7 linked regions of the Homo sapiens genome follow. The protein of the gene in region 2 purifies or fractionates together with the protein of the main gene of each other region. This does not show direct contact. Each region holds a gene or a part of one and is shown on either strand. Other genes may lie near its edges.

What was found.
Region 1: the proteins of SH2D3A (region 2) and SCPEP1 purify together in Homo sapiens (affinity purification with mass spectrometry; one large-scale study listed by BioGRID and IntAct). This does not show direct contact.
Region 3: the proteins of SH2D3A (region 2) and HEXA purify together in Homo sapiens (affinity purification with mass spectrometry; one large-scale study listed by BioGRID and IntAct). This does not show direct contact.
Region 4: the proteins of SH2D3A (region 2) and GDPD3 purify together in Homo sapiens (affinity purification with mass spectrometry; one large-scale study listed by BioGRID and IntAct). This does not show direct contact.
Region 5: the proteins of SH2D3A (region 2) and RFXAP purify together in Homo sapiens (affinity purification with mass spectrometry; one large-scale study listed by BioGRID and IntAct). This does not show direct contact.
Region 6: the proteins of SH2D3A (region 2) and ACP3 purify together in Homo sapiens (affinity purification with mass spectrometry; one large-scale study listed by BioGRID and IntAct). This does not show direct contact.
Region 7: the proteins of SH2D3A (region 2) and ANXA8 purify together in Homo sapiens (affinity purification with mass spectrometry; one large-scale study listed by BioGRID and IntAct). This does not show direct contact.

What each region holds. Positions count from the first base shown.
Region 1 is NC_000017.11:56,998,631-57,002,130, forward strand, and holds part of SCPEP1 (retinoid-inducible serine carboxypeptidase precursor), read left to right. Parts: intron 1-2,224; coding exon 2,225-2,362; intron 2,363-3,387; coding exon 3,388-3,500. UniProt on the Homo sapiens protein: May be involved in vascular wall and kidney homeostasis.
Region 2 is NC_000019.10:6,751,660-6,754,547, forward strand, and holds the end of SH2D3A (SH2 domain-containing protein 3A), read right to left. Parts: intron 2,790-2,888; coding exon of another isoform or gene 2,767-2,789; coding exon 2,592-2,766; coding exon of another isoform or gene 2,505-2,591; coding exon 2,393-2,504; intron 1,983-2,392; coding exon 1,797-1,982; intron 1,447-1,796; coding exon of another isoform or gene 1,358-1,446; exon of another isoform or gene 1,116-1,357; coding exon of another isoform or gene 1,095-1,115; coding exon 934-1,094; 3' UTR 501-933; downstream 1-500.
Region 3 is NC_000015.10:72,373,215-72,377,241, forward strand, and holds the start of HEXA (beta-hexosaminidase subunit alpha isoform 2 preproprotein), read right to left. Parts: upstream 2,801-4,027; 5' UTR 2,759-2,800; coding exon 2,506-2,758; intron 1-2,505. UniProt on the Homo sapiens protein: Hydrolyzes the non-reducing end N-acetyl-D-hexosamine and/or sulfated N-acetyl-D-hexosamine of glycoconjugates, such as the oligosaccharide moieties from proteins and neutral glycolipids, or from certain mucopolysaccharides.
Region 4 is NC_000016.10:30,104,310-30,107,423, reverse strand, and holds the end of GDPD3 (lysophospholipase D GDPD3), read left to right. Parts: intron 1-1,967; exon of another isoform or gene 1,968-2,414; coding exon 2,415-2,552; 3' UTR 2,553-2,614; downstream 2,615-3,114. UniProt on the Homo sapiens protein: Hydrolyzes lysoglycerophospholipids to produce lysophosphatidic acid (LPA) and the corresponding amines. Shows a preference for 1-O-alkyl-sn-glycero-3-phosphocholine (lyso-PAF), lysophosphatidylcholine (lyso-PC) and N-acylethanolamine lysophospholipids.
Region 5 is NC_000013.11:36,822,222-36,825,721, reverse strand, and holds part of RFXAP (regulatory factor X-associated protein), read right to left. Parts: intron 295-3,500; coding exon 187-294; intron 1-186. UniProt on the Homo sapiens protein: Part of the RFX complex that binds to the X-box of MHC II promoters.
Region 6 is NC_000003.12:132,344,907-132,348,406, reverse strand, and holds part of ACP3 (prostatic acid phosphatase isoform PAP precursor), read right to left. Parts: intron 3,481-3,500; coding exon 3,348-3,480; intron 1-3,347. UniProt on the Homo sapiens protein: A non-specific tyrosine phosphatase that dephosphorylates a diverse number of substrates under acidic conditions (pH 4-6) including alkyl, aryl, and acyl orthophosphate monoesters and phosphorylated proteins.
Region 7 is NC_000010.11:47,481,316-47,485,451, forward strand, and holds the start of ANXA8 (annexin A8), read right to left. Parts: upstream 2,801-4,136; 5' UTR 2,706-2,800; coding exon of another isoform or gene 2,619-2,705; coding exon 2,598-2,618; intron 1-2,597. UniProt on the Homo sapiens protein: This protein is an anticoagulant protein that acts as an indirect inhibitor of the thromboplastin-specific complex, which is involved in the blood coagulation cascade.

The sequences.
Region 1 (3,500 bases), on a different chromosome or scaffold from region 2:
CCACGTTTTGTAGGTGAGCAAATAGATACAGAGACAGTAAATGACTTGTCAGGGCTGGATGCAGTGGCTCACGCCTATAATCCCACCACTGTGGGAGACTGAGTTGAGAGGATTGCTTGAGGCCACAATTAAGCAACATAGTAAAGCCCCATCTCTTTAAAAAAATAGAAAAATTAGCTGGGCATGGTGGCATGTGGCATATAGTTCTAACTACTTGGGAGGCTGAGGTGGGAGGATTGCTTGAACCCAGGAGTTTGAGGGTACAGTGAGCTATGATTATGCCACTGCTCTCCAGCCTGGGCAGCAGAGAGAAACCCTGTTTCTTAAAAAGGGGAAAAAAAAGACATCAAAATTGATTCAAAATAAGGAGTTGGTAGGGAGCTGAGTGGGGAGGGAAATAATGTGTAATTGGTTGTGAGTTAATAATTGTTGAAGCCTGGTATGGGTACATCGGAGCATTGTATGCTTCTCCTTTCTATCCATTTGAAATTTTCCATAATAAAAAATTAAGATAAAAAAGCTACATCGAAGGCCACAGTTGGTTGCAGATGAGATTTCGCGCCAAAGGTCCTTGCAGGATGTCAGAGACACCCAGGTGCTCGGGCAGATTTTGACCAGCTCTCTCTTGCTGACCTCCCCAGGCATCCTGATGCTGGATATGGCCAGGCATTACTGCGTTCTGGTCTCAAGGCCATGGTGAGGAAATAATGAAATCCTTAGAGACCAGGGCCAGGTAGAAATCTTGGTTAAGTTCCTACTTTAGTCCTATAGGGAGGCCTTGAGCAAGCAGAGATCTCAGGTTTCTGAAGGGAAAATACTCCAAACCTAAGAGGGTTTTGTTTCATGTGTGTTCAAGATACCCCAAGGATATGGGGTCAGTGGTCCTGCGGCTGCTGCTGGGAGCCTACGATTTGCTGCTGCTGGGAGCTTTCTCAGGGGACATGGGCCCTCCTCTCCCAACCTGCAGTCACCAGAGGTCTCATTCCATCCCTGGTTTTTTCATTACTCCTGAGTGCTGGGAGAATTTTAGAAATGAAGAAAAATTAGCTCAAATGAAAAGAGCTGGGTGTGGCCGGGTGTGGTGGCTCACGCCTGTAATCCCAGCATTTTGGGATGCCAAGGTGGGCGGATCACCTGAGGTCGGGAGTTCGAGACCAGCCTGACCAACATGGAGAAACCCTGTCTCTACTAAAAATACAAAATTAGCTGGGTGAGGTGGCACATGCCTGTAATCCCAGCTACTTGGGAGGCTGAGGTGGGGGAATCGCTTGAACCCGAGAGGCAGAGATTGCGGTGAGCCAAGATTGTGCCATTGCACTCCAGCCTGGGCAATAAGAGTGAAACTCTGTCTAAAAAAAAAAAAAAAAAAAAGAGCTGGGCGTGGTGGTGTGCATCTGTAGTCTCAGCTACTTGGGAGGCTGAGGTGGGAGGATCGCTTAAGCCTGGGAGGTAGAGGCTGCAGTGAGCTGAGATTGTGCCCCCGCTCTCCAGCCTGGGTGACAGGGTGAGACTCTGTCTCAAATAAGTAAATAAATAAATAAAAATTAAATTTTTTTAAAAGAAGACTTCTTATCTCCCAAGGTAATGAAGAAGAAAATGGGATGTTGCTTGTCAGATGCCTCCTTGGCAGTGACTAGCAAATAATGGTGGCTGCCACTCTTATTGCTGTCATTCAGTGTTAGGATAATGCTGATGGGCAGGAGCTAGCAAGAGTACTAGCTCCTCTCTTGCCTGGGGCTTGTTATTCATTTGGCTTTCCTGAGGGCCAGCTCTGAATTGGTTTAGGTTTGATCTGGTTTATTATAAGGTAGGCCTACCTGTTCAGAACTTGAAACTTGGCCCTGGTGTTACTCAAAAAAACAGGAAAACTGACATTGGCCCAAAGCACAATTTATTCCCTGAGTGTACCAGCCTAATGAGTATTTCCTGGGCCTCTCCCTCCCTGTTTCCTTGGACAGTAGCCTATTCCAGGTGTCAATTCCTCATTAAAAATGGTGCCTGCTGTCATCACAAGCTCTCAAGAGAATGGACCACATGTGCTATTTATGTGTGCCTTACACCTGACCAGTCGGCACAAATTTCTGGGCTGGTTCATCCCTGTTTGTGAAGCATCTGTGCATTCAGTCGTTGTTCGGTGCTGGAGCCCAAGATGCTCTGGGCTGAAAGGTACCTCCTGTTTTGGCAGATTCCAAGCTACTCCCTCTTTCTCCTTCCCCATGTGCAGGCCAGGCTACCAACGTCTTTGTGAACATGGAGGAGGACTTCATGAAGCCAGTCATTAGCATTGTGGACGAGTTGCTGGAGGCAGGGATCAACGTGACGGTGTATAATGGACAGCTGGATCTCATCGTAGATACCATGGGTAGGAATTGACTCTGAGAGGCACCTAGAGGCAGTTTTATGGGTTCAACTGGAAGGGAACTGGCCTTGGACATGTCAGTCTTGCGGTGGGTGATGTTGAAATGCCAGGTGGAAGGCCATTTCCCATTACATCCGTCTACCCCGACCTTGATTATTCAAAGGGTGGGGAGCTGCACGTGGCTGTGACCCCTCAGAAGCCTGAGCCTACCTGGGTTTGGGGGCCCTTAGGTATGATTAAAGAAAAGAACACCACCTGTCTCTACCACAAAACTTAGACATTTTCCTGGTTATTGGGCAAATGCGCTGTTTAATTAAGGGAGAGCCTCATTTTTGTGCGACATCACAGTCGATGTTGACCACTGCAGAGTGAATTAAAACTAAACCCTAATGACTGTAACCCTGAAGACCCAGGGGAAATGGTCTTTGTGGAATCCTGACTCCTGCCCTATCACCTACCACCTGTTTAATTTGCTCACTTCCAAATTAAATAGGGCCTGGTGGAGGCTCAGAGACAGGTTCTCTGAACTGGCAGGGTAATTGAGGCACAAGGTCTGACGGATGTGACACGCCTCGTGAACCAGAAGGATTGAATATTTTTGTGATGGGTAAACAAGAGACACCAAGGACAATTTGGAAAGCTGCTGCATTTCTCGATGAACATCCCAGGTGATCCTTATCACTATCTCGTTCACGACATCTCTCAGTCCTCCTCACAGGCCTGTCTGCCTCCAGAGGTCCCCAGTTCCCTTCCTAAAGAGCAGATGGCGGTGAGAGATGCAGAGGCAAAATCAGTCAGGCTTTGCAGCTGTTAGGTTTCTCCCAGCAGCCTAGGTTTCACTGGGAGTCAGAAATGCAGATGCTCAGGCCCTACCCTGATCTTCTGAATCAGAATTTGCATTTTAACAAGATCCTGAGTGAGTTTCATGCATATTGCAGTTTGGGAAGCACCAACTTTTAGGACCTAGACTTTTTTCCTATTCTATCCAGCTGTTAATGCCAGGCCTTTCTCTTTGTCCTTCTCACCAGGTCAGGAGGCCTGGGTGCGGAAACTGAAGTGGCCAGAACTGCCTAAATTCAGTCAGCTGAAGTGGAAGGCCCTGTACAGTGACCCTAAATCTTTGGAAACATCTGCTTTTGTC
Region 2 (2,888 bases):
CTATGTCATTGTCAGTGGGTGTCTGCTTGTGACTCAGGTAGGGAGAAGGATACCAAGTTTCTTTTTTTTTTCTTTTTGAGACAGTCTCACCCAGTTGCCCAGGCTGGAGTGCAGTGGCGTACGTGATCTCAGCTCACTGCAGACTCCATCTCCCGAGTTCAAGCAATTCTGCCTCAGCCTCCCAAGTAGCTGGGATTACAGGCACACACCATCATGCCCAGCTAATTTTTGTATTTTTTGTAGAGACAGGGTTTTGCCATGTTGGCCAGGCTGGTCTTGAACTCCTGACCTCAAGTGATCCATCTGCCTCGGCCTCCTAAAGTGCTGGGATTATGGCGTGAGCCACCGCACCTGGCCAGGACACCCAAGTTTCATCCCTTCTGAATGCACTGCAGCTTCTGAGAATGGGTAGCACTTATTGAAGACCTACTGTGTGCCAGGCATTCTCCACCTGGGGTCTCATTCCTGGCCACAATTCTTAGAAAGTACACAGCCTCAACTTTTACATTTTTTAAAAGTTTTTTATTTTTCAGTTTTTGTAGAGATGAGGTCTCACCATGTTGCCCTGGCTGGTCTTGAACTCCTGGCCTCAAGCCTTCCTTCCGCCTCGGCCTCCCAAAGTGCTGAGATTACAGGCCTGAGCTGCTGTATGGCTATGATTTTGTTAAAGGCCGACACAGAGGTGAAGTCAACTGCTAGAAATCACGGCTTTTAAGAGGTGGAGTCACATTTGAACTCTGGCCTCTGATGCCAGATCTGCAGGTCACATGTTCACCATGGTCCAGGTGACCCTGACTGCGGTCCCCACCTCTTCTGTGAGGCACAGGGCAGGATTCCACCTGAGGCGCGAGGAGCCTGGGACGACTCCTTTGGTCTCTTCTGGGGTTCGCAAAAACCTGGGGGTCCCGGGTGTGAAGAAGGGTGTCTGCGCTCTCAGCGGTCAGGCTCCAGGCGCTGCGACAGGACGCCGAGGACGCGCTGGAACTTCTCAAAGCGTTCAGCGCGCGGAGCTCCCGCGCCCCGGCTACCCCAGAGCAGCCTCCGCACGAAGCCGGTGGTCAGGGCCTCCCTCAGCTCCGGGTTAGGCCGGAATCCTGGAAGCAAGGTCAGGTGGGCTGGGGGCGGGGCCCAGGCGCCCGCCTCGCCCCTCCCAACCTCCCGGCACCTTCCTTTCCCCAGAGGACTTTGACCCAACAGGGGCCCGGGAGGGACCTGCCCCACCTGCGGGATGACTAGGCGGGGTCAGAGGGGAGGGGGCTTCCAGCTCTCTGCAGGAATGGGGGTGGGGTGCCTGAGGGGCTCTACCGCAGTGCAATGGGGTGGCCTGTTCCAGGTGCCAGATCCTGGAGGTCCCGCCTTAGGGGCTGTGCCTGGACGTGGGGCTGCCCCGAGGACGGGATCCCAGGTTGTCGGGGAAGGTGGGGGGATCTTGCCGGGTGGGCTGCCCTAGGATAGGACGGAGGAGTCGTTTTGGAGGGAGCAGGGCGTTCTTGGGGATCGAGATCCCTGGGGGACGGGATCGTCTTAGGTGGGAAGGGGGAGTGGGGACCCGCGGAGGTGGCTCTGGGGGCAGGACAGCCCGTTTTGAGGTGGACGGCCCTGTTCCTATCAATACCGCTGGATGCAGCGTTTGCTTGGGGTGAGAACCTTCCTGGAGTGGAGCCGTCCCAGTTTGGGTGGGGCTCCGGGAGGCGTGGCGAGAGGCTCCCCTCCTGGGACAGGCTGGGTTTGGGGGATCCGGTTAGAACCTGCAGGGTGCTCTGAAGTCTGCAGTCCAGCGCAGAGGGAACGCTCACCTCGCAGGCGCTGGGCTGCCACCTTGCGGAATTTGGGTGCGTCCCGGACCATGTGACGCGCCCCGTGCAGGGTGCGCAACAGCCGCTCACAGCTCTCGTCCAGCGGCCCCGCGACTTCCTCGCCCTCCAGTAGGCGAACCATGGGTGCCACGTGCGGCAGCGCCACCTCGCCGGGGTCGCAGGGTCCTGCGGAGGGGGAGGGTCTGATCAGGGTTTGGGGCTGTAGATGGGGCATAGGGCAGAGGTGGAACCTAGGACAAATGCAGGGGCGGGGCTTAGGACTGAGCGACAGCGGGGTCTGTGGAGAGGGGCCAGGACCACACGCCCCGTATGGAGGGCGGGGCCTATGGCGAAGGGGCGTAGCCTAGGGAAAGGGGCTGGGACCAAGGCTGGTGGGGGCGTGGCCTAGGAACAAGTCTCGTGTGGAGGGCGGGGCCTAGGGAAAGGGCCAGGACCAACCCTCATGTGGAGGGCGGGGCCTATGGTGAAGGGACCGGGCCTAGAACAGATGCAGGGACTGGGCATAGGACTAGATTGAGTCCTGTTAAATTTGGTCTGGGCCCCCAGGGGATGCTAAGCCCCAGACCTTCACTTACCAGCGCCCTCATCCAGAGCCCGCATCAGCGGCTTCAGCTCCTGCTCAAAGGCCAGCGCAGCCTCCGTGTGGCTCCTTCGGAGCTGGCGCCACGTGTGCTCCAACCGGGACACCTGGGAGAAGAGATCTGAGCACGCCTCCTCTCCAGTCTTCCCAGTCACCCGCACTCCAGCTTCCTCCAGTCCCTGCTCCCCACGAACCTGGGGCATGAGCAGGGCGCCCATGACTGCAGCCAGCCCGGGCAGGTCCCCCGCCGCCCCTGGCCGCAGCGCCAGCGCCAGCTCTACCAGTCCCCTCAGTGCGGCTGCGCGCTCCTCCAGCGGCCCCGAGCAGCCCAGCACCGCCAGCGCCCCGGCCAGCGCCAGTGTCTGATGCCTGCAGAGGTGGAGGGCAAGGGTCTGGGGGAAGTGGGGAGGTTTGTAATGCAGGGGTGAGGGGGGACAGGAGGTGGCATTGCCCCATCTCCCTTCTTCCCTGGGGAACCATGAGTGGGGAGC
Region 3 (4,027 bases), on a different chromosome or scaffold from region 2:
GTTAGTTAAGATTTAACCTGCATATGTTGCCTTCTTTACTAAAATCAGACTCATAAAGAAATGTATTCTGGCTTCAGCCTTGTTGGTATTGCTCTACCTCTATTTGTTTCCCATGCTATTGCTTCATCCTTGTTTCTGCAGAACTAGGATTTTAGCTCAAAGTCACCTAAAAGCCTCCACAGGAAACTACATTCCAAAGGGAAGACTCCATGGGAAGAGCAATAGAGAAAGAAGTTACTTTTAAGTCTTTGGTAATGTTCACCCAACCCAGTTTTCATTTTCTCTCAATGGACAAGAACCCTCAACTAATAAAGCTAATGAACTTACAGGAAGGTAATATATGGAAATAAACATCTTATTGAATTTATCTGGCTCTAAATCTCTTTTGTTAGGGAATTTATAGTATTCCATTATCTTACAATCTCTCCATTTCTATCTACTTGATTAAACTATGGTGCTATAGCAATGGAGGTGAAGGCCTAATTTAGAAGTATAGGAATTAGGTATGGCGCGGTGGCTCATGCCTGTAATCTCAGCACTTTGGGAGGCTGAGGTGGGTGGATCACTTGAGGCCAGGAGTTTGAGACCAGCCTGGCCAACATGGTGAAACCCCATCTCTACTAAAAATACAAAAATTAGCTGGGCGTGGTGGCAAGCACGTGTAGTCCCACCTACTCGGGAGGCTGAGGCAGGAGAATCGCTTGAACCCAGGAGGCGGAGGCTGCAGTGAGCCAAGATCGTATCACTGCACTCAGCCTCAGTGTAGGCTGAGTGATAAAGCGAGACTCCGTCTCAAAAAAAAAAAAAAAAAGGAAAGGAATTATTCTCATGTATACAATAGTAGGAAACAACCTATAAAGCTTTTGAGAATCTTATAATTCACTGTGTACCTCCCTCTGTTTCATATTTTCGCAATTGAACTATAGAGCCTAGGCCTAGGTCTTAAGACTTTTCTTGTAACCTTCAGAGTGCCCAGCACTGGGATTGACATATACCAGTTAGACGGATTTTTTTTTCCATAAACCAGGCTCAAACTCTTCTAAACCAAAATCAACATATTCTGAGTGCCAATCTTGGGTAAGGCACTCTATTATTTGTCATGAAGGATTCAGAGGAAAATGTGATCTACCACACTCAACAGCAGGCCTCTTATCCTCTCCAGCTTAATGCATTTTACCAGTTAAGGACTACCCTGATGCTGAGATTGTGTTTCTTTCCCCAAATCAAATGTCACTCTCTAAGGGTCATCTGTATAATTAAATGCTTTTAATTCTATATATCAAATGATAACTTTTGTGAAAGTAATTTAAACACACTTGAAACATCATATAAAATATTACTACAAGACTTAACCGTAAATGTGGCTCCCACCCCCATAACATCTATACAATATAACCAAAGAGCTAGATTCCAGATTATCAAGAAACTTCTAAATTTTGAACCCATGCAGCAGAATTGTATTCCTTTACATTGTTGGCTCGACTTACAAATGTGCTGTGGAATAATTATCCTCAAATACAATTTTCAGTACTGATTACATAGCTGCCTAAAAGAAAACTGTTAGCCCCTTCCATTTTATGTGAAACCAATGTCTAAAGCGCTCTTGACTCTTCAACCCCACATTTTCCCCACCCTCATCCCTCCTCAATCCCCAGCCCCCACTCATCACATCCACTAGACCTGAACTTTGAACTCAATCATAATTCTTTGTGCCTCTGCTCAAGCCCTTCTTCCTGCCTGGAATACCCTCTTTTCAGTCCCGGCTAATTACATCTACCATCCCATTCCAAGTGGCCGCTGGAAACTCACTTCCTTATGTTCTATGATTTCTTTCACAATTTACACTTTTTTTGTTTTGTTTTGTTTTGTTTGGGGGGGGGGGTTGTTTTTCTGAGAGGGAGTCTTGCTCTGTTGCCCAGGCTGGAGTGCAGTGGCGCGATCTCAGCTCACCACAACCTCCACCTCATGGGTTCAACCGATTCTCCTGCCTCAGCATCCCGAGTAGCTGGGACTACAGGCGCGCGCCGCCACGCCTGGCTAATTTTTTGTGTTTTTGGTAGAGACGGGGTTTCACTATGTTGGCCGGGCTGGTCTCGAACTCCTGACCTCGTGATCCGCCCGCCAAACATTCTATGTGCCAGAAACTTGTATGTAACTTTGCATAGTTCTTGTATTATGTCTCCCCAATTTTGAGTGTTTTCTCTGGTCTCTACTCAGCCCTTGCTCACAGTCTCACTAGGACCCTGGCTAGCTTGAACACGGTCAGAAGGATCACCTTAGATTTCTGCTGGCACAGTATTTTCCATAAATTAATCTCCTGATTGAACCGTAGTCCTATAGTAGTTATCTTTGGATGAAAACCTAATGCAGCTCGAGGAGGAAGTGGAGTGCCTGTGATCAGAGGGCTGGACAAAAGCCCATAGGGCGTCTCTGGAGCCCTGGGGGAACTGTCCCCAGGCAGGCACTCTCAGGGCCCAGGAACAGGGCGGGACAAGTCCGACTCACCTGTGAGGTAAGGACGGGGCCAAGACCCGGAACCGAAAAGCAGGTCACGATAGCGCTGGAAGGCCTCGTCGAGGACTGAGCAGCCGGGCTGCGCGGCCGAGCTGACATCGTACTGGAATTGAAAGTTGTTCGGGTAAAGGACGTAGCGCTGGTCGGAGGTTTGGAAGTTCTGAGGCCAGGGCCAGAGGGCCGTCGCCCGTCCTGCGAACGCTGCCGCCAGCAGCAGCGAAAACCAAAGCCTGGAGCTTGTCATGGCCCGCTGGTCTCCCCTCTCGGAGGGGGCTGGCCACGTGAGACCCTGGTCAGGTGAGCGGCGCCCCCGTGACTTATCGGCGAATCACGTGACCAGAGGCGGCTCTGCGCCTGCGACCCCAGGAGGACCCACACCCTGCCCTTTCACTTCCGGCCTGGACCTGAGGCTCCTGCTACGTGCAGCGGATTGTGCCGGGCGTCGGCAACTGCTCGGCTCGCCAGACTGTTCACGGGCCCAGTAGAGCAGTAAATAACCGGCCACCCCTGCGGCCGTGCCGGCCGTGATGGAACTAGACAGCTCACCCGACTCGAGAAGAACGGGGTGGGGAGGCGAGGACGCAGGGCGACCTGGAGAAGAAAGTTTCCCAGATGGCTCTAGGGTGAATCTTGAATGTTGTGATGCAGCTCGCCAGGCCTACGGGGAGGTAAAGGACTTGCCAGGCTGAAGTAACTTCAGAAGCAGAAAAACGGAGGATTAAAACCACAAGTCGTTGTGATGTGAAATTTCGTGGGGCAAGAAAGGGCCGGAAGTAGGTAGTCTGCACGGCTCTGCTAGAGAGAGGATCACAAGATCACACAAATGTGATCTACTTATGACTGGAAAAAATGTGTACTTTCAGAGCCAGCTTGAGGCATTCCATTGCCTCCAATATGAGCTCTTCCCTTCAAGATTGACTATAAATCTCTTAGTTACAACTCACATCCCCTTTCCCCAGACAAAACCCCACATAGCCCGGTGTGTATTTACTGAAAGCAGTAAGATATTGCTGGGGCTTTGGGTGCAAGATGGAGAGTGCTCAGAGATAATGACAGGGGCCTGGTCCTGCAGGGCCTTACGTAGAAAGTCAAGGAATTTATTCTCTGAGCAATTGAAAATCATCCCGAAAGATCTGCATTTTAGAAATACCATGTTGAGTAGTTGCATAAGAAACCAGTTAGGAGGCCCCTTTTTATTGGAGGTAGAGAATAATGAGAGACTGAACTACAGAAGTGGGGAAGGAAGACAGCTGTAGATCCAAGAAATAGTATCCGGAAGAGAGGCTTGAGAAGTGATCAAGGAGAATTCCACAGTTATCAGAGACCCTGTCTTCCTTGTTCACCACTATATTACCAGAACATAATACAAATAATGCTATTGTTATTGGGTGGCATTATTTGGTTAGTAGGTACTTTTTAAAATTTTTAAATTTAATTTTAGTATTAAAATACATGTAAAGATCAGGAAAATGAACTTTTAAAAATAAAGGGCTTTCACTGGGCATGATAACAC
Region 4 (3,114 bases), on a different chromosome or scaffold from region 2:
AAGAAATGCCATAGGCAGAGGCTGGGCACGGCTCCCACCTGTAATCCCAGCCCTTTGAGAGGCCAAGGTGGGAGGATCACTTGAGCCCAGGAGTTTAAGACCAGCCTGGGCAACATACTGAGACCCTCGTCTCTACAAAAAATTTAAAAATTAGCCAAGCGCAGTGGTTTACACCTGTAGTCCCAGCCACTCAGGAGGCTGAGATGGGAGGATCACCTGAGCACGGGGTTTCGAGGGTGCAGTGAGCTATAATCAGAATCACGCCACTGCACTCCACACTCCAGCCTGGGAGAGATAGCCAGACTGTCTCAAAAGAGAGAGAGGAAAGAGCGTGAGAGCCAGAGACAGGGAGAGGGAGGAGAGGGAGGGAAACAGGAAAAAGGAAAGGAAAAGGGAAAGAAAAGAAAAATGCAGAGGCAGGGTGCAGTGGCTCATGCCTGCAATCCCAGCACTTTGGGAGGCCAAGGCCAGCGGATCAACTAAGGTCAGGAGTTCGAGACCAGCCTGGCCAACATTGTGAAACCCCATCTCTACTAAAAATGTAAACATTATCCGGGTATGGTGGCGCATGCCTGTAATCCCAGCTCTACTTGGGAGGCTCAAGCACGAGAATCACTTGAACCCAGGAGCTGGAGGCTATAGTGAGCCGAGATCACGCCACTGCACTCCAGCCTGGGCGACAGAGCAAGACTGTCTCAAAAATAAATAAATAAATAAATAAAATATTAACTGGGCATGGTAGTGCATGCCTGTAGTCCCAGCTAGTTAGGAGGCTGAGGTGGGAGGATCACTTGAGCCCAGGAGGTCAAGGCTACAGTGGGCTGTGATTACACCACTGCACTCCAGTGTTGGCAATACAGAGAGACCTCGTCTCATCTGTATTTTTAAATAAAAAATTCCCATCTCCGCCTACCTCAGTGCCCACTCAACGGGCAGGGAAGGGGCAGAGCTGCAGGAGCTGGGGCAGGTGGCAGTGGAATGGGGGTTTGGGGGAGGGTGGTGCTGTTAAGTGGTCAACAACTAGCTCTCAGAGAGGAACAAATGAAAGCCCTGATTTGAGGATTAATTTTCCTGGTTTAAATACTCCCATCTTGGCCAGTTTCAGGCTGCCGACATGAAGCCACTAAATGCAGAATGGGAAGAGATGCATGGTGGCACCCCATCATGTAGTATTTCCATCTTGCAGCCTCAACAGACTTAATCACTTCAAGAACACAGTAATAGGAAACTGATTAGCAAGAGATATGCTTTGAATATTTATTACTGGATTTTTGTTTGTTTTGGGTTTTGTTTTTTGTTTTGTTTTGTTTTTTGAGACAGAGTCTTGCTCTGTTGCCCAGGCTAGAGTGCAATGGCGTGATCTCAGCTCACTGCAACCTCCACCTCCTGGGTTCAAGCGATTCTCCTGCCTCAGCCTTCTGAGTAGCTGGGATTACAGTCGCCCGCCACCACGCCCAGCTAATTTTTCTGTTTTTAGTAGAGATGGGATTTCACCATGTTGGCCAGGCTGGTCTCGAACTCCTGACCTTAGTTGATCTGCCTGCCTCGGCCTCCCAAAGTGCTGGGATTACAGGCGTGAGCCACTACGCCTGGCCACTTGTTGTTTTAATAATTTATTTAGGGCCGGGCGCGGTGGCTCACACCTGTAATCCCAGCACTTTGGGAGGCCGAGGCGGGTGGATCACGAGGTTAGGAGATCGAGACCATCCTGGCTAACATGGTGAAACCCCATCTCTACTAAAAACAGAAAAATTAGCTGGGCGTGGTGGCGGACATCTGTAGTCCCAGCTACTCAGGAGGCTGAGACAGGAGAATGGTGTGAACCCGGGAGGCAGAGCTTGCAGTGAGCCGAGTTCATGCCACTGTACTCCAGCCCGGGTGACAAACCAAGACTCCATCTCAAAAAATAAATAAATAAATAAATAAATAATTTAATTGTCAGTATATATAATTTTTTTTTTTTTTTTGAGACGAGGTCTTGTTGTATCGCCCAGGCTGGAGTACAGTGGTGCAACCATAGCTCACTGCAGCCTTAGAGTCCTGGGCTCAAGCAATTCTTTCACCTCAGTCTTCCAAGTAGCTGGGAGCACAGGCGCATACCACCACACCGGGCTAATTAATTTTTACAAAGTTTTTTGTAGAGATGAGGTCTCACTCGATCTTAAACACCTGGCCTCAACTCCTGCCTCGGCGTCCCAAAGTGTTGATATTACAGGCGTGAGCCACTGCACCCAGGCTATGATTTAATTTTTAATAATGGCTGGGTTTAATAACCACTTTGCAAAATTCCTGAGAATTTAACAATCAGCTCCAGCCTACTGCTGCTGGGGAGTCTCCATAGAGGAGGAGGTGGGTCCCCACTCTCCAGATGTAAAATTGTTCAGAATCTACAGGCCCCCTCCCTCCCTGCTCAGGTGGTCTTTTGGTGCCTTAATGAAGAGTCGGATTTTGAAGCAGCCTTCAGCGTGGGAGCCACTGGCGTCATAACGGATTATCCCACAGCCCTGCGGCACTACCTGGACAACCATGGACCAGCTGCCCGGACCTCCTAAGTCCAGAAGCCTCGAGGTCTCCTGTTTCTCTTCCTGAAAAATAAATATTTGCCTTTCGATCACATCGTTGTGCTGAGGGTGAGGAGTAGAGGGGTGGGTCCTGAAGATATGAAGATGGCAGCTTAGGAGGGAACAGGCCAGCCCTGAGGCTGGAGCCTGGGGCCCTCAGGAGCCTGACCCACTGGTTCCACTGCATTCCTGTCCTCCTGCCACACCCCACCCCAGCCTGGCCTCCACTCTCCTCAGCAATGTCCTCTCACGGCCAACCCAGGCATCCTGGCCCCCAGCCACTTGACAGCAACAGGTAATGGTTCCATTTTCCTGAGGCCATCAACAGCCCAGGCACCGGGCAGGGAACTTGATCTCTTCCATGTCTTGCCCTGTGAGCTTCCTTCTCGGGCTGCAGAGGATGGGCCTGGGTGGGACAGCTGAGTTCACCCAGCCCCTCTGCTGCCCCCGCCATTCCAACCTTCTCCTCCCAGGTCTCCTTCTCCAGAAGCTCCCAGAATGCTTCTGCCATCTTCAGCCCCAGGGCCATATTCACTGAAGGAACTACACATTC
Region 5 (3,500 bases), on a different chromosome or scaffold from region 2:
TAAAAAAAATCTCATTACATTTTTGAGGTAAAGTTCCGATTCTTTTTTTAAAATTTTGACTTATTAGGAATTTATTTTGATGTATAGTGTGATGTCATGAGCTAAAAATCTCAAAAATCTCAATTGTTCCATTTATAACAAACGTTTGTTAACACATTTATAACTGATTTACAAACAGATATTTACCAGTCTTTTTTGATTTAACACTTGTTCTAAAAGAGTAGGTCTTGCAGGACGATCCCCAAAAGATCCTGTTCTTTGTTTAACAATGGAGAGTATGTTATCTGCACTTTCCTGGGATAAATGATAAAAATGCAAATAGATAAACAGTTAACGTAATAAGTCATGATTACAGGTATTTCAAAGATGTAATGAACAGGTCTTTGCATTTCTTCCTTCTTCTTGCCCAGTCTCTGGGCAACTCTGGGAAAGTTCTTCATTATCATAGGCAAAGTATTGGCAGTTAATTTAATGTAACATTCCTCCTCGCTCCCTCTCCCCCCAGATTTTCAACCTGGGTTCTTTAGTCTCTTGGCAGGTCTCAAAATTAATAGTGTGTGTGATAGAGTGTGATATAGTAATACTGTGAGAGGTGGGCCACTAAGATTGAGGCAGAGTTACTTGTGAGCTATTTTCAATATTACAAAAAATGCCAAGTGGAATTGACCATTCTCTTTATATAATGCTATCCAGGCCGAAACATAATCTGCTTGCCTTTGGATGAAATATATGAACTCAGAGGCAAATTATATACTGCTCAATAAGATATCTGATAGCTTTTTACCCAGTTGGCAACCAAAACAAATGGGGGAGTAGTAAAATATTGTTTAAAGAAGCAACTGATAACCAAAGCTTTCAAAATTTAGATAAACTTGCTTGAAAAAGCACTAGTATAAATAGTCTCCTGCCAACTGTATGAACAAAACAGGTAAGTCCTAAAATGATACCATTACCCTGAGATTTCACTGCCCAAAAACAAAATCAGCAGCACTTATTACCAAATATGTACCCCCAGTTACCTGACAGCATCTTAAATACTTGTAATTTTGCTGGCATAACAAAATATTGTTTAGTTGACTGAAATATTCTGACTCTTACAAAACTATGCCACAATACCACATCCAAAATTCTTACTAAAGTAGCAAATATAAAATTATAAATGTTTTACCGGAAAGCCATACCTTACATGAATTTAACCTCTTTGTTCTTTACTTAGAATATTATCTATGCTGTTTTTTCTCTTGGGCTTCTTTCTACTGGCCTCTGAGTTATCTATGAGAATATCCCCTTAATTTCTTTCATTATGAGAAGTTTACCAACCTGATATTACAAAAATATTTCACCCCTAAACATTTTAGGCCTCAACATATAAAAACTGTAAAAAGAAAATTCTAATACCCAGAGGAAACAAAAATAATTTCTTCCTCCTCCAGCAACCCCCAAGTTGATTTTATTTATGAGATTCTTTCATTTTTATGTGCAAGATAATGGAATGCTGAAATTGACTTGATGGTACAGTACCCTCTGCCCTCACAACCCCACTATGGAAATTCAAAAGGTTAATTCACAAAATATTAGATACTGAATTAGATAAAGAAGCTTGTAGTGAAAATAACCTTTAGTCATCTAGTCCAAACTTGTACAGATGTTGGAATTCTTTTTCAAAAACCTGCAATGCTTTTTGTCCTACAGAGTTTACCAACTTTTGCCACATTTCATTTGGTTTTGAATAGCTCTAACATTTCGGTAGAATGTTAGGTAGCTTTACTTAAGCTGAGCTGAAATACATACTCCTTGTGATTTATGCCTAAGAGTCCTAGTTACCTCAGAATCATGCCATATAAGTCTACTGCTTCTCTTAAATGATAGCTTTTTAGATATTTAATAAGAACAATCCCACCAGCAGAGGTCAATTCATTTATCCCTAGTCCCTTTATGTGTCTCTCATATAGCATAGTTCTTAGATTGGTGGAGTAGACATTATACACATTTGTTCCTCATTTAACCTTGACTTGTGTAAGAAATATTAATTTTAGATACCTTAATTTCTTTAATTTTTTTACCTTAATAAATTCTTCATTGGAATAGAGAACTTAATTTCTAATCTTGCTGCTCACAACATAGCAGAAGACACCATCATCACCTGTCAGTCCTACTATAATAATCTTCGAAAGAGTCTCAAAATCTATAGGCTCTCAACTTTAACCCACTCCATCAGGGTAGGATCCTCTGCTACTTCCTAATTAGATCATTTCATTTAAAGACTCCAAATCCAAATCCCATAGCCTGGCATTCAATACTATAAAAAACTGGCTTCAACCTATCTTTCCAAATTTCTCTCTCATGAATTTTCCACTCAACTATTTTAGCTAGAATAGTCCACTTGCTATCTTCACAAAAGTGTTTTCTGTATTCCTACTTCTCTTTCTTTACTAAAATGTGCTTCTCTTTCCTTTTATCTACCAGAATTCTAGGGAAGCAGTATAGTAAGGAGGTAAAAGTGAAAGCTCTAGAATAAGACTGCTTGCGTTTGAGTACAATACTTGCTGGCTGTATGACCTAGGCCAAATTCTTTAGCCTCTCTGTGCCTCAGTTTCCATGTATGTAAAATATAGTATCTATCCCATTGCTGAAGGGTTGTGAGACTCCATTTATAGCTTAACACAGTGCTTGACACATAAGAAACTCAGCTCATTAAGCGTAAACTATTGCCCATCCTTTCTGGTTTATACTGAGTCACGTTTCCTCTGCAAAGCCTTTCTGGAGTATCTCAGCCTACAATGATCTATCCTCCTCTGAACTACTAAAACCGGACTATACAGTTGGCTCTTATTATATCCTGGCTGGCACTGTTATTTTCTTTACACTCAGTTTAACAAAGATAAAGATTTACAGATCTTGTTACCTCCTCAGAACTGATAAAGTATCCCAAAATATAAGACAAACTGGATAGTAAACTATTAGTATTATTTGTTGCTTATAGCAATTAATTCCCTTCCATAAAAAGTCATGCAAATTATTTTAAAATAGTGAAGCTAGGTGCAGTGGTGAAATAATCCCAGTTACTCTGAAGGCTGAGGCAGGAGGATCACTTGAGCCCAGGAATTCGAGGCCAGCCTGGGCAACACTGTGAGACCCATCTCTAAAAAATTAGATAAGTAAATAAATAACAAAATAGTAATAAGGTTCTTTTTGTGGGAGGTGCAGAGGGAGACGCTAATTCAGTATCTATCTGCCTTTTATACATTTTCCTCACTGTAGATGTAAATGTTAGGTAGTTTAAAAAAAAAAAAGTAAGCAGCCATAGGTTAACTACTTCTTTCTTGAAAATAAGTATTATTAGGCCGGCGTGGTGGGTCTCACCCGTAATCCCAGCACTTCAGGAGGCTGAGGTGGGAGGATCAGGAGTTCGAGACCAGACTGGCCAACATGGCAAAACCGCGTCTCTACTAAAAATACAAAAATTAGCCGGGCGTGGTGGTGCATGCCTGTAATCCCAG
Region 6 (3,500 bases), on a different chromosome or scaffold from region 2:
AGGCTTGGAGAGGCTCAGAAACTTGATTAGATTATACAACTTGCAAGCAGAGAAGGAGGGCTTTAAATCTAGCATGTCCTGTGTCAAAACCTTTATTTGTAATCATTAGAACATGCTATCGTGGAAAGCTAGCTTCAAAGTTATCTGTTGTATCCTTTATTAAATCTTCGTAAACTAGACAAAAATATCATTGACCTGAAGACATAAACTTTGCTTCCTTCATTTCTAGTCTACAGCAGAGGTTGGCAAACTTTTCTGTAAAAGTCCAGAGAGTAAATGTCTTAGGCTTTGTGGGTTAAAAAATCTGTTGCAACTACTCAGCTCTGCGGTGGTAGCATGAAAGCAGCAATAGACAATGCATAAATGAATGAGTGTGGCTGTATTTCAATAAAACTTTATTTACAAAACCAGGTAGTGGGCTGGATTAGGCATACAGGCAGTAGTTTGCCAACCTCTGGCCTAGAGCAAGAAGAGCTCTCTTTTCACTGATATGACCAGCCATATGATCCTAAATTTGCCCCAGGGATTTTTTTGGTGTGTGTGTGTGTGTGTGTGTGTGTGTATGTGTGTGTGTCTTACTGAACAGTGTCACCCCTGAAGTTAAATGATGAAATAAAAATTCTAGACTGGGCACAGTAGTTCATGCCTATAATCCCAGAACTTTGGGAGGCCAAGGTGGAGGATCGCTTGAGCCCAGGAGTTCAAGACTAGCCTGGGCAACATAAGGAGACCCTGTCTTTGCAAAAAATTTAAAAAAAATTTAGCTGGGCATGGTGGTGCATGACTGTAGTCCCAGCTACTTGGGAGTCTGAGGTGGGAGGATCGCTTGAGCCTGGGAGGTCAAGGCTACAGTGAGCCGTGATCATGCTGCTGCACTCCAGCCTGGAGGACAGAATGAGACCCTGTCTCAAAAACAGACACAAAAACAAACAAAAAATACAAAGAAACAAAAACAAAACAAACTAACAAAAAAACTAGCAAAGGTCAGAAGATGGCCCTGATGTGTCCACATTACTCTTTGTCACCTAGACAATGTGTGTTTTCTGTGCAGGAATGTGTGCAGCTGTTTCATCATTCAATAAACATGTAGTTGACAAATCTCTCTTGCCCAGCCAGATCTGAATAATAGTCTGAGCTTTTGTTTTGGCAGAACCACACAGGAGAAATTTTCCTGCTTAACAATGGCGCTGGACTTTTTCCAGAAAGCAGGACAGCTGGTTTCATACAAGTGCCAGCCTTTAGAATCCAAGATCAGAGAACAACTCAGAGAAGGACTCTTATAGACAGTCTAGTTTAATCTCCTCATAGGTAGTGAAACAGAGATCCAGAGAGGGGAAGTGGCTTCTCCCAAATGTAATCTTCTAGTAGGCAAGGGAAATAAAAGAGGAAACATGAGGAAAGTGGAGCAACTCCATTTCTTATTCATACATACACATCCCTACATCTACTATTAGACTACTGTCAACTCCTGTCTGGTATAAAGCATGTTGGGATTTTATTCAAATGCAGATCCTGATTCAACTCGTTTGGGAGTGGGGCCTGTGTTTCTAGCCAGGTGGTAGTTGATGCCGATGCTGAAAAGTAGACTGCACTTTGAGTTGTGAGGGACTAGGTGCCTGAATCCACCATAACTAGGTTGGGGGAAATAAATCAAGAGTCCCGCTTCCACCATTTGATGGGGCTTGCAACTGAGTCACACTGCTGGCACCTGGTGGGCCAGAAATGAGGCTGAGTGCTTATGTGGCTTCCAAGGCACCCTCTACATCTTTTGTTGTTAAGCACTTAAGATTGAGCTTCTTCCTGGGTTCTGCCCATAGACACAGTCTGTATCCCGCCTGGTAATTTTTTCCAACACTCCAGCTTCCATCTAAGACTCCTCTCTGGAGACTCTCCCTTCCTCAAGGCTGGATCTTGTTGCTCATGTGTTTAATGTGAAGTAAGGACTTGCACATTTCTATCAAGTCTGTCTCTGTGCCATGCAATCAGGATTTTTGTAATAGCAGATCTACAACAACCTCATGTCGTTAATGGCCACTGTCCTAAATTTTTTGCCCCAACCTACTTTATTCATCTCACATGAATTTGCTCCTGACCATCCTGGTTTCATACCTCATTCCCCTGGTTACAGCTTGCCTCACTCTTTATACCTGGTGTGCAGCCCTGCTTTTCTAGCTATAATTGATTCCTTTTCTGGTCAGTGATTTGAATTTTTTCCCTAGTTAAGTAGCCTCAGTGAACAACCTCCCAGTCTGGTCCAGCCCTAATATGCTTTGCCTCTATGCATTCTCTTGGGATTTTGATGGACTTGTCCTGATGCTGTGGTGAATAGTGTCTGTCAATGGCTGGAATCATGATGTGATTGTATTAATCTCAAAATGCCTTGAATATGTGTGTCAGCCTGACTTGGACCATCTCCTGTGGCTTGGACTTTCCTCATTACGTCAACCTGACATGATGAACTTTCTCTTCTTCTTTATCCCTAGTTTTAATACCTATGATAACCACATCTAAGTCTGACACCTCATTTGGTATCTTGGCCTGCCCATCCAGTTTCTCTCATAAGCCCCAACATCTGTCCTTGTCTTTGCTGGTCCTGACTTTTTTCTTCCATCCACTTATCCTGATTACAAGAATCCAGCATCCTCTTGCCTGGGTCTGCCTTCATATGACAGGGTGTCCTGTGCTACGAAGAGCCAGTTCTAACCAAGAAGAGGCATCACTGATAAATAAATCTCAACAGCTTTCAATGTCAATGAAAAATTTCAAGCTGTGTTATAAACTTGTCAATTGCAACATATTTTAACAGCACATAATTGGTCTGAAAAATATAACAATTAGCCTGAAAAATATATTTTATCGGCTTTCACAATGACTACCACTCAGGGTTTCAGGAAAACAGGCCACTTTTGTCATACCTCCCACTTGAAAAATTCATCATATAGGCCACAAGACACAATTGATTTTCATGTGGCTCAGACACAGATCCTTGATTTTTGATCTGGAGGGGATGGAAAGGATCATTTAGCTTTAGCTTTCATTTTCCAGATAGAAAACTAAGGGCTTGAGTGAGTAATAGTTATGATTATACTAACATATGACATTTATTGACAGTGTATTATGTACCAGGTACTGTTTGCTCTAAGCCATTTGAATACATACATTCATTTTAATACTCACTGTCTATGAAGTAGGTATCATTAATATCCCCATTTTGCAGAATGGAAGCTGGTGCAAGAGTGATTAAGTGAACTGTCTGAGATCACACAGTTGATTAGTGGAGGGAATGACTCAGACCTGGATCATTCAACCACAAATCCAATATGCTCCTCTCATTTTTTAATACTTACCCCCTTGGAGCCTAGATTTCTCTTTCTGCTTGTGAATTCCATAGAGGGACAGGAGGGACAATTCTGACAATTCTCTCAACTTAGTCATGGTGTCCTCAGTGGCCCAGGAGGGTAAAGTGAAATTGTGAACACTCTGTAGCAAAGAAAAAGGAA
Region 7 (4,136 bases), on a different chromosome or scaffold from region 2:
CTTTACAGAAAGGGAGCTGGACTCCCTTACACAGCTAGTAAGTGATGCTGTTGGGACTCCCCAGCCTGACTCAGAAGCTGAGCTCTATCTACCTCCCCTGCCCTACTGATGACTCCACCTTTCCCAGACAATGAGTGTTCCTGGAACGTTCCACTGAAGGAAGCTTCACCCACAGGAACGCAGGTCATCTGGGAATGTGGGAGGCATCTCAGCTCTCAGTGCCTGCCGGCTTCCCTCTGCCCCAGCACTCGGGGGCTGTGGTGCACCAGCGAGTGGCCAGGCTGTGTAACCGCATCCCTGAGGAGCATGCAGTCCCGCAGGGGTGCGGTAGGTCTCAGGTGCAGCATTTGTAAGCAGCTCCCTGGCTGGTTCTGATTTTGCTGCATTGAGAAGCCTCTGTCTCACTTCCCACTCTAAGGTTTTAGAAAATAAGTGTTCTGGGAATCGGAGCCCTGGCTATCAGTGTGGAGTCCTGGAGCTCCAGACCTCCTGCTGAGAAGGAAGGGTCAGCCTCAGGCTCCTGCAGGGTCTTGCCCAGGGCCGTGCTAGTCCAGACAGGCACATTTTCACTGAAAAGGTGACTCAGACCAGCCTGTGACTACATCTATTAATATAACTTGTTCTGTGACAGGCACAGGGGAGCTGCCACGCCTTGGCCTTCCCCTGCTACGTGGCTGCCCAGAGGCCTGGGAGATGGGTTTGTCTCTATGAGAGACACAGAGGAAAAGGCAACACCAAAAAGAGAGGTGCAGATGGACCCTGCCTGCAGACAGATCTCTCTCCAGTGGCTCCCTCATCTCCTCCCATCGCGTTCCTGGCCCAGCTTTGTGCCTAGAGGACACTGGGTCTTCGCTAGCAGCTCAGCTGTTGCAGGTGGGGTCTACCTGTGAACTTGCTACCCCTAGCCAGCTCTCACATGGGGTATGGACGACCAGGGTATGGTTTTGGCCCTGGAGTCAGGCTGTTCAGATTCTCACCTAGACTCTCACACTTACTAGTGAGTTCGGGCACCTGCCTAGCCTACTTGTGCCTCAGTTTCCTCATCTGTGGATAAGGATACTGGTGTCTACTTCATAGACTCCTTGTGAGGTTCAAGGGAGATATTGAATGTGAGGTGCTTAGAGAAGGGTCCGGCCACAGAGTAGGGACTCAGTGAGTGTCACAGTGATCCTGTCAATTTGGCAGGTCCCTACATGGACAGCCCTTTGTCCTGCTGCACTGGGTGCAAGGCCCAGTGCCAGACTGCCTTGGCCAGCAACTGACTTTGGAAACCACCCAGCACTGGGCTCTCCCTGCCATGTCCACCTCCTCAAAGGCAGGTTCCCAGCAGTCTGGTTGAAGCTGCAGGCCTCCATGGCCCCTTGTCCTGGAAGAAGGCTGCTTCCCTGGGGGCCAGGACAGCTGCCCCACCTCAGCCTGGCTTCCTCTTTGTCCCACCTGTCCAGAACCTAGCATGTCTGACCCTGAGGACACTTGCTTGGGTTGCGACATCTATGATCCAGAGACTCCCTGAAGCTGGACAAGCCTGGGTATCCCACAAAAGCTCACAGAGAACCTGGGGCTGGGCAGAGAGACCCAACTGCTCTCTGACTGGAGCCTGCTGGCCATTGGACCCTAGCAAGTCACTCAGTGTCTCTGAGCCTTCATTTCATCATCTGCAAAACAGAAAGTGCAGCCCTGACATCCTGAGGCTGCCTGGGAGGAAAGGAAAAGGGTGTGCAGAGCCGGCAGCCGGGAGATGTCACCTCTGTCCCCTTCTGGATATTCAACTCCTTAGCACAGCGATGGCCTCAGGCTCAACCATAGATGGAAAGCTCCCGAGAACCCATCAGTTCTGCTGGGGATGGGCTGCCCTGAGCCCCGGGTTCCTCCAGGCTCTAGCAGGCCAGGTCCTCCTGCTTCCCCTCTTCCCTCTCCAGTCTTGACAAATGAACATCATTGATCCCTGAGGTGAAGGCATTGATGGGTCCCCAACAGCAGGTTCAGGTTACTCTCATGCTCAAAGCCCTTCAGTGCCTTCCCACTTCTCTTAAGGTAAAGCCTAACTCCTCAGCCTGCCAGGCAAGGCCTTTCAGGACCTGGCCCTGCCTGCTTCCCCAGGTCCATCTCCTCCGGTACCAGGACCCTTGAGCTGTGCTGAGCAGCTTCCCTCGAAGCCAAGCTCCCTGCCCTCTGACCCTCTGCACACAGTTCCCTCTGCCAGGAGCAGTATGCCTGATTCTCCCCAAATGCACACGTGTGTGCACCCCATACACATTTACACACAAGGCTCAACCATGATACCCCCTCCTTTGAGTGGCCCCACCCCTGCAAGGGTCCCTCCCCTGGACTCTTCTCAAACCTCAGCTTCCCCCTTGCATTTCTAGATTTCTTCATCAGCCTGTCTCCCGGCCCAGGTCCCATCCCTGCCGTGGGCACTCTAGGCCTGGGACTGTTTCTTCTCGGCCCCTTCCCACCCTCCATGCTTGGCCCAGGAGGCAGCCAAATGTAGACTGAGCCACTCCCAGCCAAGGGCGACTTTACATTTCTCAGGACTCCCTGGTGACCAGCACCCAACACCATGCAGGAACCCAAATCTCCTGCCAGCTCCCACTTACCCAGGATTTCCACCAGGCCATCTCTTTCACCTCGGGGGCACCTTTCCCAGGGAGATGAAGAGACACAGGTTGGCCTCTGCTGGGACTCCACACGTCTGGCTCCTGCAGCTGAGGAGTGAGCAGGCCGCTCACTTGGGTGTGGGGGTGCAAGCCCGCCCAGGGCAGCGCCACACCTGCCTGCCGTCCCCTCGCCCCCGGGCTCTGCCTGGCTTTGGGCATCTCCTGTGGCTCCCAGGCCCCACCCAGACACTGCCCAGGCCTGCTCTGGGGAATTACACAACTCACTGGCAGATATTTGGGCTGTGGCTGTTACGCATACTGGAAATTCTTAGCTCCAGCCTGCGAAAGCCCCACTCAGTAAACACAGCTCCATGTTGATTAGGCTGGTCTCAAACTCCCGACCTCAGGTGATCTGCCCACCTTGGCCTACCAAAGTGCTGGGATTACAGGCATGAGCCACCGCACCCAGCCCATTTTCATCACTCCTAATAGCCATGGAGTATGCCATTTAATCAACTGCATATGCAATATTATTTTTTTTTTCCGGGGGCAAGGGGCTCATATTCACCACAGATGGGAGGCCAGTTGGTGAGAAGGTGGCAGGCGGCACAGCCACCTTATACAGCATGCCATACTGGTCCACTGTCAGACCGGTGATGGCCTCAGCTCCATCACCCCCCAGGCTGACTCTGGCTCCTGCCTGGCTCTGCCCGGCCACCACAACCCCTCGGGACCATTCAGAGGCATCACTGGAGGATGTGTGGTTAGTGGAGCAGCTGGTCATGGGGAGGTCTCGTTTCTTTGGTGGAAGGCATTCCTGGTTCCTCTCATGAACAGGTTTCATATTGCTTTGTGGTGTTCCTGGAGCCTGGAAGGAGTTGGCTTGCTCCCTGGGGCATCAGGAGGGGCTTCTCTGTAGCTTCTCTGAACCCCTCTCTGCTTCTGGCTGGGGCACCTACATCTGAGCTTCCAGTGGTGCTTCTGAGCAGCTGTAGTAAGCGTCCTCCCGGCTGGCTCGGGAGCCAGCCCATTTCACCACGCTTCCCGGGATCCACCCGCTCATCCTGGAGCCGCTGCAAACCTGGCCGCCGCCATCCCCAGCCCCGGAGCTGCCCCATACCCCTGTATATGCAATATTTGTTAACCATTCCCTTTTGGTGCCCATCTAGGTACAGGTATCATTTTTGGAGCTAAAGTATCTATAATACACTGGAAGTAACAGATGTCACCTCCATATTGTACGCCAAACCTAATAAGCAGAGCAAAACTTTTCATCCAAGCGATTTGGTTAACATTTTAGGATGTTTCTAATCTCTCAGTAATACAAATATGCTACAATAGATCTGTGTGTTTATCCTTTGGGCACCTGTGTGTGCCTGTGCATACCTGGAGAATAAAGTCCTGTGAGAGGAACTGCCATCCAAAGAGGGTGTTTCAGTCTGTACTGCCACCAACAATGTGCTTGTGCTTCTGAGCTTGCGTTTGGGTCAGGAGAATTTGAAAGTCATCAGGAACCAAACCAGGATATAAGGTTCAGCT